3 linked regions of the Homo sapiens genome follow. The protein of the gene in region 2 interacts with the protein of the main gene of each other region in a pairwise test. Each region holds a gene or a part of one and is shown on either strand. Other genes may lie near its edges. The genes, in order: ABI2, PRDM6 and NEK6.

What was found.
Region 1: the proteins of PRDM6 (region 2) and ABI2 interact in binary tests that used the Homo sapiens proteins (3 or more experiments, as listed by UniProt).
Region 3: the proteins of PRDM6 (region 2) and NEK6 interact in binary tests that used the Homo sapiens proteins (3 or more experiments, as listed by UniProt).

The regions. Positions count from the first base shown.
Region 1 is NC_000002.12:203,429,212-203,432,709, reverse strand, and holds the end of ABI2 (abl interactor 2), read right to left. Parts: 3' UTR 1,710-3,498; coding exon of another isoform or gene 1,705-1,709; 3' UTR 541-1,704; downstream 1-540. UniProt on the Homo sapiens protein: Regulator of actin cytoskeleton dynamics underlying cell motility and adhesion. Functions as a component of the WAVE complex, which activates actin nucleating machinery Arp2/3 to drive lamellipodia formation.
Region 2 is NC_000005.10:123,092,241-123,095,840, reverse strand, and holds part of PRDM6 (putative histone-lysine N-methyltransferase PRDM6), read right to left. Parts: intron 1-3,600. UniProt on the Homo sapiens protein: Putative histone methyltransferase that acts as a transcriptional repressor of smooth muscle gene expression.
Region 3 is NC_000009.12:124,255,765-124,259,586, reverse strand, and holds the start of NEK6 (serine/threonine-protein kinase Nek6), read right to left. Parts: upstream 1,639-3,822; 5' UTR 1,502-1,638; intron 1,347-1,501; exon of another isoform or gene 1,226-1,346; intron 378-1,225; exon of another isoform or gene 93-377; intron 1-92. UniProt on the Homo sapiens protein: Protein kinase which plays an important role in mitotic cell cycle progression. Required for chromosome segregation at metaphase-anaphase transition, robust mitotic spindle formation and cytokinesis.

The sequences.
Region 1 (3,498 bases), on a different chromosome or scaffold from region 2:
AGGAAATAAGATGGGCTTGAAAAGTGAGAAAAGCTGAAACATCATTTTGGGTATTGTGAAGACAAACTTACTTGCTACCCTCAGATACATCATTAGAAAATTCTTTTATAATCTAGGCTCTCATAGCAACAAAGCACAGGCTAGTTAGTGGTTTGTCTTTTAGATTCACTTCTGACCAGTCTGCAATATTTTTTAGTCAACACCCATCTTCAGTGTTTGTCTGTTGAATTAAAAAAACTGTACATTAACAGAATTAGATTTGGAGAAAAGTGGTAAGAAAACCCCAGGTGCGAGTGGAGCAAAAACAGGATTAGAAAGTTCTTAATTAGAACAGCTGTCTTCAGGGAAGAAACTTGAGATCAAATTTAAAGCTCAACATTTTAAATCTTTGAAAATTTAAAAAGACGACTTCTTCAGTAATAAAAGGCAGCTCCCTGGTTTAGAGCAACAGAAAAGTCAGATTATCCCTAACACGTAAACTCAAGATACCACCTTAGAAAAAGAGGTTATTTATATAAATAAGTTAACAAGACACCTGAATATACTTTGTGGGATTTTATTTAGGTCAAGTTCTTAGTACACGGCAACAATTCCAAATACAATTAAAAAATTAAAAAGTGATGTTCCTCCACTCATCTGGAGGTGGTTTAATGGCACACAAGGAACATTACTGGCAACAGACTGCTCCCTCAAGTTCCCCTGGATGGTTTTTACTCAACTCATAATACCACCAACTCTCCCTCTGGGAGCTAAAAGTACAACTGGCCAGATCACAAATTGTTTACATTCTTTTTTGTAAGCCATTTTAAGAAAAATGGTGCATGGACACAAAATATGATAAAAACTGCTTTTCCATAGAATTCTTAAGTTGCAAAAGAGGTTTCATTTTAATGTGAAAATAAGCTTTTTTTGTTGGTTTTTCTTTTTTCTTACAAAAAACCTTAAGATATTCAGCAAGGATCATTTATACACAGCTAGGCCCCGCCGTTTCGTTTTAATTGTTTTTTTTTTTTAATAATTATATGAGATTCTCAAAACAGGAACAAAGGTCAGCACAAAGTAAACTTAAAGGTAATGAGCTCAATGCCTCCATTTAATCACTTTTATAAGGCTCTCTCCAATAAGGCTGCTGTGCTGTGCTCCTGCCAGTGTTGGAGTAATATAACATTTTTACTGCACACACCTTATGGGAAAGTGTTTATACTGAGTGTAGTTTTAGGAGGGGTAAATGAAGATTATTTCCACAAATTAAGATTGCACTTAGTACACGCCTTTACACAACTCTGATGGTATTTACCAAAACATGGCATGTCTTTTCACGTATATTCCTGAAAACACCAAATAGAACTCTTAACTTTTAAAGAAAAATACAGCACATTTAGTTAAGACAGTTGTGGTGCAGTGGAAAATTAAGTACTGAGCACTGAGTGAGAACTCTGCTGTTATTAACTAGCTGTTCATATGAAGAAGAAAACTCACCTCATCAGTCTAATGAGACAACCAGAAATTTTAAAAATTTCATCTAGCTCAAACTCAGTGATTCTAAATCTTATATGGGGGAAATTACCACCTTAACACCAATCAGGAGTTCCCGGCCAAAAAGACCAGAAGTGAGCAGATCCCATTCTTTTCAAAGACTTGTCAGTCACCTGTGAATTCCTCCATCAAACCTTTTTCAAAGGCAAAGGTGACCTTCAGGACATGTCATGCTGTCTCCACAAAGGAGAAAAGAAAAGGTAGTAAAAGATAAAAACAGTTCTTAATGCAGAAAGGTCACCTACTAAAAGAAAATGAACATAAAAAGATAAAAGCAAACTACCATCATTTTGATGCCTCCCAAAGAGAAAAATCTTTAGTTATCTTCAACATAAACTGCCAAGGAGCACAGGTACGGTCCAGACATCACGGTAAATATGCATAAAATATTGTCTAGCTGGATAATAAACACCAGCAGTAGGAAAAAGGAGGGGATGAAAATGTCTCACACCCAGTAACTTTTAGGAACATAGCAAAATTAGCAGGCCACTGTCAACTCTAAAATGGGAACAGCAGGCGCCTCTGAGGGAGATAGGAAGTAGCTAAATGATGGAAAATATTAAACAAGATAGCTTAGAAGATTCATATTTATTCCAAATGGGAGGCTGAATCTCTCAGATGTCGATTTTGACACATTGGCACTATTTTTGTTTCTGATTTATTGCCTTGGCCGTAAGTTCAAAGGCAACAATAAAGTGTACTTTCATTAATACCACCATGGACTTTCGAGTATTAATATGACAAGAAAAGACAACTATTCATTTTTTTTAAGGGGACTGGACACACAAACTTCAGGAGGGAAGAATCCCCTCTCCCATTAGAATCCCTCTATCTTGATAAAATGGTTGCTTTATTGGTCAGATTTTGGACTTGGATCGTCTGTTATAATATTAATAGTACACAGCATGTAAGATTTTCTGCATTCATTTGAAATTCCTAATACCAACCATCTTTTAATTTATAAAAAAAGAGGGAAACTTACAATAAAACAAAAAATACTACCCTCACAGATGATTAATAGCATGCAATCTATGAAATATTACATACATTAAAAGTCTCCAATTACTGTGTGCCTGACCCATCACACAGTATCCTTCCAAGACAATCTATAGAATTCAAAACTGTACAAAAATTATAAAATATGCAGAAAACCCAAAAGGTACTGTTTGTAAAACAAAGATCACACACACATTAGTACTAAATAGGGAAAAAAAATCAGCAGACCCATGGACTACCCCTGCTCCCAACCACAGGTCTTCAGTATAAAGGACTTCACCAGTGTCTTCTGCACTGCCCCCATCCCGTAGGGGTCCAAAAGACCAGCTGCATTCCTGCTGACCGCCACTAACTCTGTTTTCTGCATAGTTGTCTTCCCTGCTTCTGTAGTGGTGAGCTGTGGGAACTTTTTTTTTTTTTTTTTGATGGAGTCTCGCTCTGTCACCAGGCTGGAGTGCAGTGGCACAATCTCGGCTCACTGCAACCTCTGCCTCCCAGGTTCCAGTGATTCTCCTGCCTCAGCCTCCCAAGTAGCTGGGACTACAGGTGTGCGCCACCACGCCCAGCTAATTTTTGTGTTTTTAGTAGAGATGGGGTTTCACCATGTTGGCCAGGATGGTCTCAATTTATTGACCTCATGATCCACCCACCTCGGCCTCCGAAAGTGCTGGGATTACAGGCATAAGCCACCACACCCAGCCTGTGGGAACTATTTATTGGATTTCAAAACACCCTCTGCCTCATTAATCCACTAAGCTTTCTCAGCAAAAAGCTGTTTAAATAAATAATGGGAACATCTAATTTAAAACAGTTTTTCTAATTATAGACCAGTACACGAAGAAGAGCTTAACTTATCCAAGTATAGTCTAGTTTGGGTCCATAATGGAGCTGAAGGCTCAGAGGACATTCAGGGCCATTACACTGCAGGAAAACAAGGAATAAGGGATGTAGAAATGACCTAAGAAA
Region 2 (3,600 bases):
TCCGGGCTTTTGGTGTGTGGAGAGGCCAACAGTCATGTGTAGGCGCGTGGGGAGTGAGAGCTACATCACATCTTCACTCCCCAGTACCTGCCCGACGCCTTCGTTGGCTCTCACCCGCCCTGCATATAGGAAAGCAAGGAGTAGGTGAAAAGCCTGCTTCCCCGCCTGGGCGCCACTATCCACCCCGGCTGTAAATCCTCCCCTACCGCCGCCAAGGTCGCGGCCCTCAGTCTCGCAGGCCGAGACCCGAGGGGCCGGCGCCCATCGATCCCAGCCCGGCGACTAGGACCCGGGAGTGCCGCCTGCTGGCAGTGCCGCGTGCGCCCTAGGCGGGGAGGGGCGTGGGGGCTGGGGAGCCGGGCAGAGGGCGGGCAGGCAGAGCATCCGGGCCCGAACTTCTCGCGTGGGGTTCACGCCCCCGGGGCTCCAGCCTGCGGTCCCCCCACTGCCTTCTCGAGCTATAGGCTAGATGGGATGGCTGAAAGGGAGCGATGGGCGGGGTGGGGCGCCCAGGCCTCAGCGCCGAAGGCTGAGTTTTGAAGGTCCCACCCCGCTCCTGCCCACGAAAGGCTCTCTTCTGACATGAGGCGTGGCCGCCGACACCACCCACGATCCGACGTCCCCACTGCACCCCGCCACCCACCCGGCCCTCCTCCTCTACCCGGCAGGGGTCTTCCAAGCCCCGGGAGCGGGTCTAGAAGCAGATCCAGAGGCGAGGCAGGTTTGCCTGGCCGCCGGAAGGGGAGCCAATTGATTTCAGTCTCGACCCTGCGGGGCGGCCCAGCTCCTGGGAATTCTCTCAGGAACTCTCCCTCTACGCGAGTTTAAAGCTCCCCGCGAATCGCAAAAGCTCTGGGCGTTCTCTGCCCTGCCTGGCTGCGGGCTTGACCCTGGGACCAAGAGGGAGAGACAAAAAGAAGAGAGCAAGAAGGTGGGAGGGAGAAAATGTGGGTCTTATTTGTCTTCCGATGACTGTATTAATAAATTAAATGGGAGCGCCAGTTTGTGAGGGTGAGAGAATATTGCGCAGAGATAAACCTCGCCGGCCCCTGCCCCTGCGAGGCTGCCATATACAATGCGGAGATGATGAATAGGAGCCGCGAGAGGAGATCGAAGCGGGTCTGGGCTGGCTCCACTCTCTCCTACAAAACTATAGGGCAATTAATTGTGGCTTGTCCCCTCATCCTTCATCTCCTGGTGGCACATATCGATGGAGATTACTGCTGATGGACCATTTTATCACCTTGAATAAACAGTCGCCACCTCTTCTAACCTCAATCTAATATATGGCTGTATGTTCGGTTTCAGGGCGCTAGATAACGAAAGATGTAAAATAGCTAAATCATGTGTGTTATGGGATGAGGCTGGGCTTGCACACACGCGAGAGAGAGAGAGAGAGAGAGAGAGAAACACAAAAGCCCACGCACTGAAGCCAAAGCTCCCTCCCACCCGGACCAGGTCTGCAATCTAAGGCGCTCGCTGGTCTTTGACAGAGGAGGCGCAGGGCAGAAGGGGCGCAGTGGATGTTCCTCGGTTGCACAAAAAGCCTGCTGGTGTGCCACTGGGCTCGAAGTTGCCCAAACAGGACCTGCGTTTTCCACCTGGGTGGGAAGGGATTAGGGAAGGTCAGAAAACACTCGCCCTCCTTTGTCTCTTTCCTTGACCCCTTAGCAAGCAACCGGACAAACCAGTGTTAGGCCCAGACTCCCTTTTCTCTCCCCAGCCCCTCTCCCTAAACCCTTGGAAAGCCTGGTGTTCCCAACAAGGAAGCCTCAAGCCCCGCTCCCACACCCATGCACACACCGGCGCTGTTTCCAGCCTGTTCCCTGCGCAGGAGGGTTCCAGTAAATCGGGAGGGGACAGAGACCCCTCCCCCAACTGGGGAATTTGCAAAGTGGTCCAACTCTCCCCCGAGACACCCAAAGTGGCTCAGTTCCCGCCTCCCTCCCAGGTCCTAGGGAAGCACATCTTTACAAAAAAGGCCTGAAAAACTAATGGGCTGTGCTGAGAGAACAGCCGGGATGCTACTCAGAAACGCCAGGCGCGCCCTGTGACTGTCTCTCTCTACTTTTCAAGAGCAGGCAACGCACCAGCTCCCAGAACCCGGGAAGAGGCCACTCCGATGGAGCCTGACTAAATCAATGGCTTCAGGCAGCCCAGCAGCAAATGAGGGCAGTAATATTAGACGGGGAAGGAAGGGCCCCATCCCCCATTTATATCGCAGGAGGCACCACTTGATTTTTAAGAGAAGGCGGCAGCAGCAGCAACAGCAAAGCATTCAGAGCTTCGGTGGAAACTGTACTTCAGTCACAGGGTAAACTGATACGGAGTTAGGAACATACTGGAAAAGCTCACCCGGGTAGCTTGCAGTTTCTGCTGTTTTAAAATCTTTTAGAACGAAAGAGAGCTACAAGCCCCATCACTGTGACATTTACCATAGATGCCAATAAAGTTTCAAGGTGAAACTAGTGTTCCTAAGTTCTTTTCTTACAGAGCAATGATATGTATTGCTGATCCTAGGCAAAAAGTTACTTTGCTAAAGGGAAGGGAGAAGTAAGGAGGCACCCCCGCATCCCGCCCTTTTTATTTCGCCTTGTGAGAAAAAGAGAAAACAACTCAATACCTATCCTTTTAAGTACGAAGTGACAAAATGAAGCAATGCTAAGTGGTCACTTCACAGAATTCTTTTAGAGGGAGATGGTAAAAAAACTAAAAGAAAAACTAGGGAAATCTATACATGATAAATTAATAGGAGCTTCCCTCTGCCTCCACCCTTCCTTTCACTCCACCTCCACTCACATACAACTCGAGAATGAGGAGAAGCTTCTGTTTTTCACAGCCTTTCAATAACCATTATGCCAACTTCCCCTGCCAAAGGAAACGAGTTTCCCACTATTTGCATTTCTGACTTGTTTTAAGCCCCTACTTAGATTAAACTCAATCACGTTTCATCTTTGTAAAAGTACATCCCATGGCTTCAAATGAGTGCCTAAGCTTGCTTGTCCAGAGAAGTTCCTGGAAGAATGGGAGATCTCGTCTCCCAGCATTACACAGCGCTATCTCAGCTTTCTATTTTCTTTCTCAATTGCCCTTTAATTAGTGAGCAACGTGGGGTGTAACTCTAATAGGACAATCTAATTTTCTTTCCCTTCTGTCTTTTCCCCTGCACTTCAAACACTGAAACAATCCAGTTGGCTCAAAAGGAGATACCAGAAGATTAACACAATATAAATTATTTAAATAAAATTGTAATTTATTTTCTCCAACCAGAGAAAAAAGTTACCCAGGCAATAAACTGGTTCAATACCCATATATTAATTAGGAATCTATCCTAATTCTTTCTCGAATTAGTCTGTTTTCTCTGGTGAAAACGTATTAATTTTCCAGACTGCATTGTAAACAGTACAGGAGCTCAGCACACAGCCAGGGATTTGGGGTGTACTGCTGGTGACTTCTCTAGCATATATTTAATTCAGAAGTGAAATTGCAAGATTGATGAAGCATTCTCAGCCTGCAATGGCTATATTTCACTTAGCAGTAAGACATACCTTTTCCAAGGCAGTTTAAAAATCTTTTTATTTCATAATTTAAAATACTTGC
Region 3 (3,822 bases), on a different chromosome or scaffold from region 2:
GGGCATTTCCAGCAAACCCAGAAGGTGTTTTCTTTTTTTCATTTTCAGGAGAAAAAAGAAAAAGAATGTGGGTCTTTTTTGCTTCCTTCCAGGTTTTGTTTGCTAAAAGAAGACGTCCAAAGTTCATTCGGTAAGCTCAAACTCGCTGAGTCCAAACTCGCTGAGTCCGGGGCAGGCGCTTCCAGACGGCTCTGCGTCCCTTTCAATGAAATTCTTCTTCCATTAACGACAGGGTTTTTAAACGTGCCTCCAAGACCTGCCTGCACGTACTGTACACCAAACTAAGGCGACATTTTCCCCCAAAAAAGGCAAGCTGAATTTGGAAAAGTCAGACCAACTAGGGAGCTCTGGAATTTCTAAAGTTTGCCTTAAAGCAATTAAGACTTTCAGCTGCAAAGATTTTCAACAGTTAGAGAGCACGCACACACACAAAAGCCTGTCAGTCAAAACTGCAAGGACAGACCTCGGAAGCTGGTGTCCCAAGCCCGCTGTGATCAATTTGTTACTGTCCTGGGATTCACACTTGGAGCCTAGGAGAGGTATAAATAAATCAAAAGATCCGTCTACTTAGCAGGGCAGGCAGAGAGGCCCCCACATACACAGGCAAGTCTAGGGTCAGCCCCCCAGGCCTGGCTGGAGAGAGACAAGAACAAAGACAGGAGAGCCTGGAGGATATTTAGGAAAACACACGTCCTCGGGTGCCCGGCCGAGGGGCCCACCACAGCCTCCGCTCGCCCAGCCTGTGTATGCAGAGAGGGTCCTGCCAGTGGCCCTGCCGCAGCCTGGCTCTAAGACCTTTGCCTCTGTCAGGCCCAGCCAGGCTCTGAGTCTGCCCTCCTGGCCCCTGGTTCACCGGATCAGGCCCAGCCCCGACCCCCAGCCCATGCCAGGCCGCTTCTCTCTCCACGGGCTCCCTGGCTCGGGGGCCATCACTGTGCAAAGGCCTGGTGGGCGCAAAGGGGGCCGGCCCCTCAACCTCAGTAATAAACACGCTCGCACGGCCCTGCACACTCGTTATACTCACACCCACACAGGCATACTTTCGCCCTTCTAGGCTCACGCATGTGCTTGCACACAAATCACTTTGGAATGCACACACGTGCACACACACACTCCCTGAGACCCGCACGTACTCCCTGCGGCGCCCGGCACACTCCTCCGCCCGTCGTCCCCACTCGGGAAGTGGGTAGCGGGGAGCCATGCCCGCGTCCCCGCACGCACTCACCCCAACAACGCCACCAGACGCTCCGGGGTGCACACGCACACCCGCCGGGGACGCGCACACCCCGGGACACGCGGACACGCCGCCCCCGCCCGCCCGGCCGCCGACACGCTCAGCCCCGCGCGGCCACACTCGCGCCCGCCTCCCGCTCTCCCCCGCGGAGCCGTGGGCGCGCGCCCGCCCTCGGCCCGGCTGGGGGTGACGGCCCCGCCGCCCGGCCCCCGCCCTTCTCCGGGCCGCGGGGCCCCACCGGCCCGGCCCCAGCCCCAGGCGACTCACCGGCGCGCGGGCGGGCTCGGCTGCCGCTGGGGGACCGGTGCGCTGGCCCGCGGGCGGCTGGAGCGGTGCGTCCCACACGAGTTTGCGGCGCAGCGGCCGCACGCCCGTCAGCTCGGTTCCGCCGCCGCCGCCACCGCCTGCGCGGGCCCGCGCGCCCGCGCGCCCGCCCCTCCCCGCCGCGGGGCCGCGCCGCCCCCAGCGCTCGTGCGCGCTGCCGCCACGCAAGCTTGAGGGGCGGGGGGCGCCCCGGCGGCGTCCTTCCTGGGCCTGGACCCCTCGACTCCGCCGAGTTCTGCGGCCGATCCGCTCGGCCGAGGAACCCCTTCCCCATTTCAGAGATGGGAAGACTGAGGCCCAGACTCACAGGGCGCAGGCCGGCGTCTCCCCATCTTCTCCGGCTCTAGACTTATGATGAGGGTCTGCAGTCAGCCAACCCTTGGACTCCTGTGCGTCTTCGGATTCCCCATCGCCTAGCATTGCTCCTACCACAGCCCTAGTCATACTGAAATTGGCACAGTAACAAGCACTTATTGTGCACCAGCTGAATGCAGGCACTGAAGTAGGCTCCAAGAGTATTCCGATGAGGGGAAGGCCCTGCCCCCTGCCCTCAAAGTGCCAGCGACTCTTCATCTGGAGCTCCCACTTCCTGTGGCCCCCGGGGGACCAGCAAGAGCCAATGTGCAGAGGTTTCTGGAAGTAGTAAAAGTCCCCACTAAAGAATGTTGAACGCCCCCTCTAGAAGTCAGAGCCTCCCTGAGACCCAAGCAGCTCAGTTCTCACTTCACCTCCTCCCCGCACCGAGAGCGGCCGCTCCTGGCTGGGCTGTTTCCACCCCTGCTGCCTCCCCTCCACATTCAAAACTGTGCTGCACCCCAGGAGGGCTGGAGCCAGGGACACTGACTGCCTGCTTGGGCGCAGCACTGTACTGGGCACAGGGTGAATGCCCGTCTGGCTTCTGTTTGCCAAATGAGTGGAAGTGCTTCAACTGGCCGTGATCTGTAATAATGACACCAACGGAGCGTCCACCACGTGTGCCAACGTTACCCTTGTGCCCATTTTACAGATGGGCTTTGAGGCTTAGAAATGAAATTTCAGGCTGGGTGCGGTGGCTCACACCTGTAATCCCAGTACTATGGGAGGCTGAGGTGGGAGGATGCCTTGAGGCTGGGAGTTTGAGGCCAGCCTGGGCAATATAGCAAAACCCCATGTCTACAGAAAAATGTAAGAATTAGCTGGGTGTGGTAGTGCCTGCCTGCAGTCCCAGCTACTCGGGACGCTGAGGCGGGAGGGTCTCTTGAGCATAGGAGTTAGCAGCTGCAGTGAGCTATGATCGCACCACTGCACTCCAACCTGGACAACAACAATAAAAAGCAAATTCTTTTGTTCAAAGTCACCCAGATGGTAAGTGGTTGAGCTGGAAAGTGCACGGCAGATTGTCTAATTCCAGTGCCTGTGTGGCCAATCACTAGGCAGCCCTGCCTCAGGAACAGCATAGCCCTGGGCTTCTGGAACAAGAGGGCAGACGAGGCAGCAGCTGGCCCACAGGAGCGGGCCTGGTCCCAGCTCTTGTGGATGAAAATGCAGACATCACAAACCAATGGGGAGGAAATGGATTGTTCTGCAAATTGTTTAGCCGTTTAGCTGGAGATCTGTTTACAGCCTTGCCTCCCATGATATACACCACAATAAATGTCAGACAGATTGAAAAGTTAAATAGAAGAAATAAACACTGCAACAAATAATAGAAAGAAATCGAAGTTCTGAGACAGCGTATTGCAGTGTTACTAGAGGATTTGTGATACTGGCCATATTCATGCAGCAAACATTAGTTCAGTCATTGGTTCACCCGACACATCTATGAGCACCTTCCATGGGCCAGGTACTTTTCTAGGCACTGGGATAAAGGAGTGAACAAAATATGGCCCTTTCTTGGGGCTTCAGTCAAGGGGGAGGGATGGGGTGGGAGGAAGACACTGAATATCTGCCATTTCAAGGATAAGAAGTTTGGGCCGGGCGCGGTGGCTCACGCCTGTAATCCCAGCACTTTGGGAGGCCGACGCAGGCGGATCACAAGGTCAGGAGATCGAGACCATCCTGGATAACACGGTGAAACCCTGTCTCTACTAAAAATACAAAAAAATAGCCGGGCATGGTGGCAGGCGCCTGTAGTCCCAGCTACTTGGGAGGCTGAGGCAGGAGAATGGCGTGAACCCGGGAGGCGAAGTTTGCAGTGAGCCGAGATCGCGCCACTACACTCCAGCCTCAGTGACAGAGCGAGACTCTGTCTCCAAAAAAAAAAAAAAAAGAAGTTTGGTGGAGAA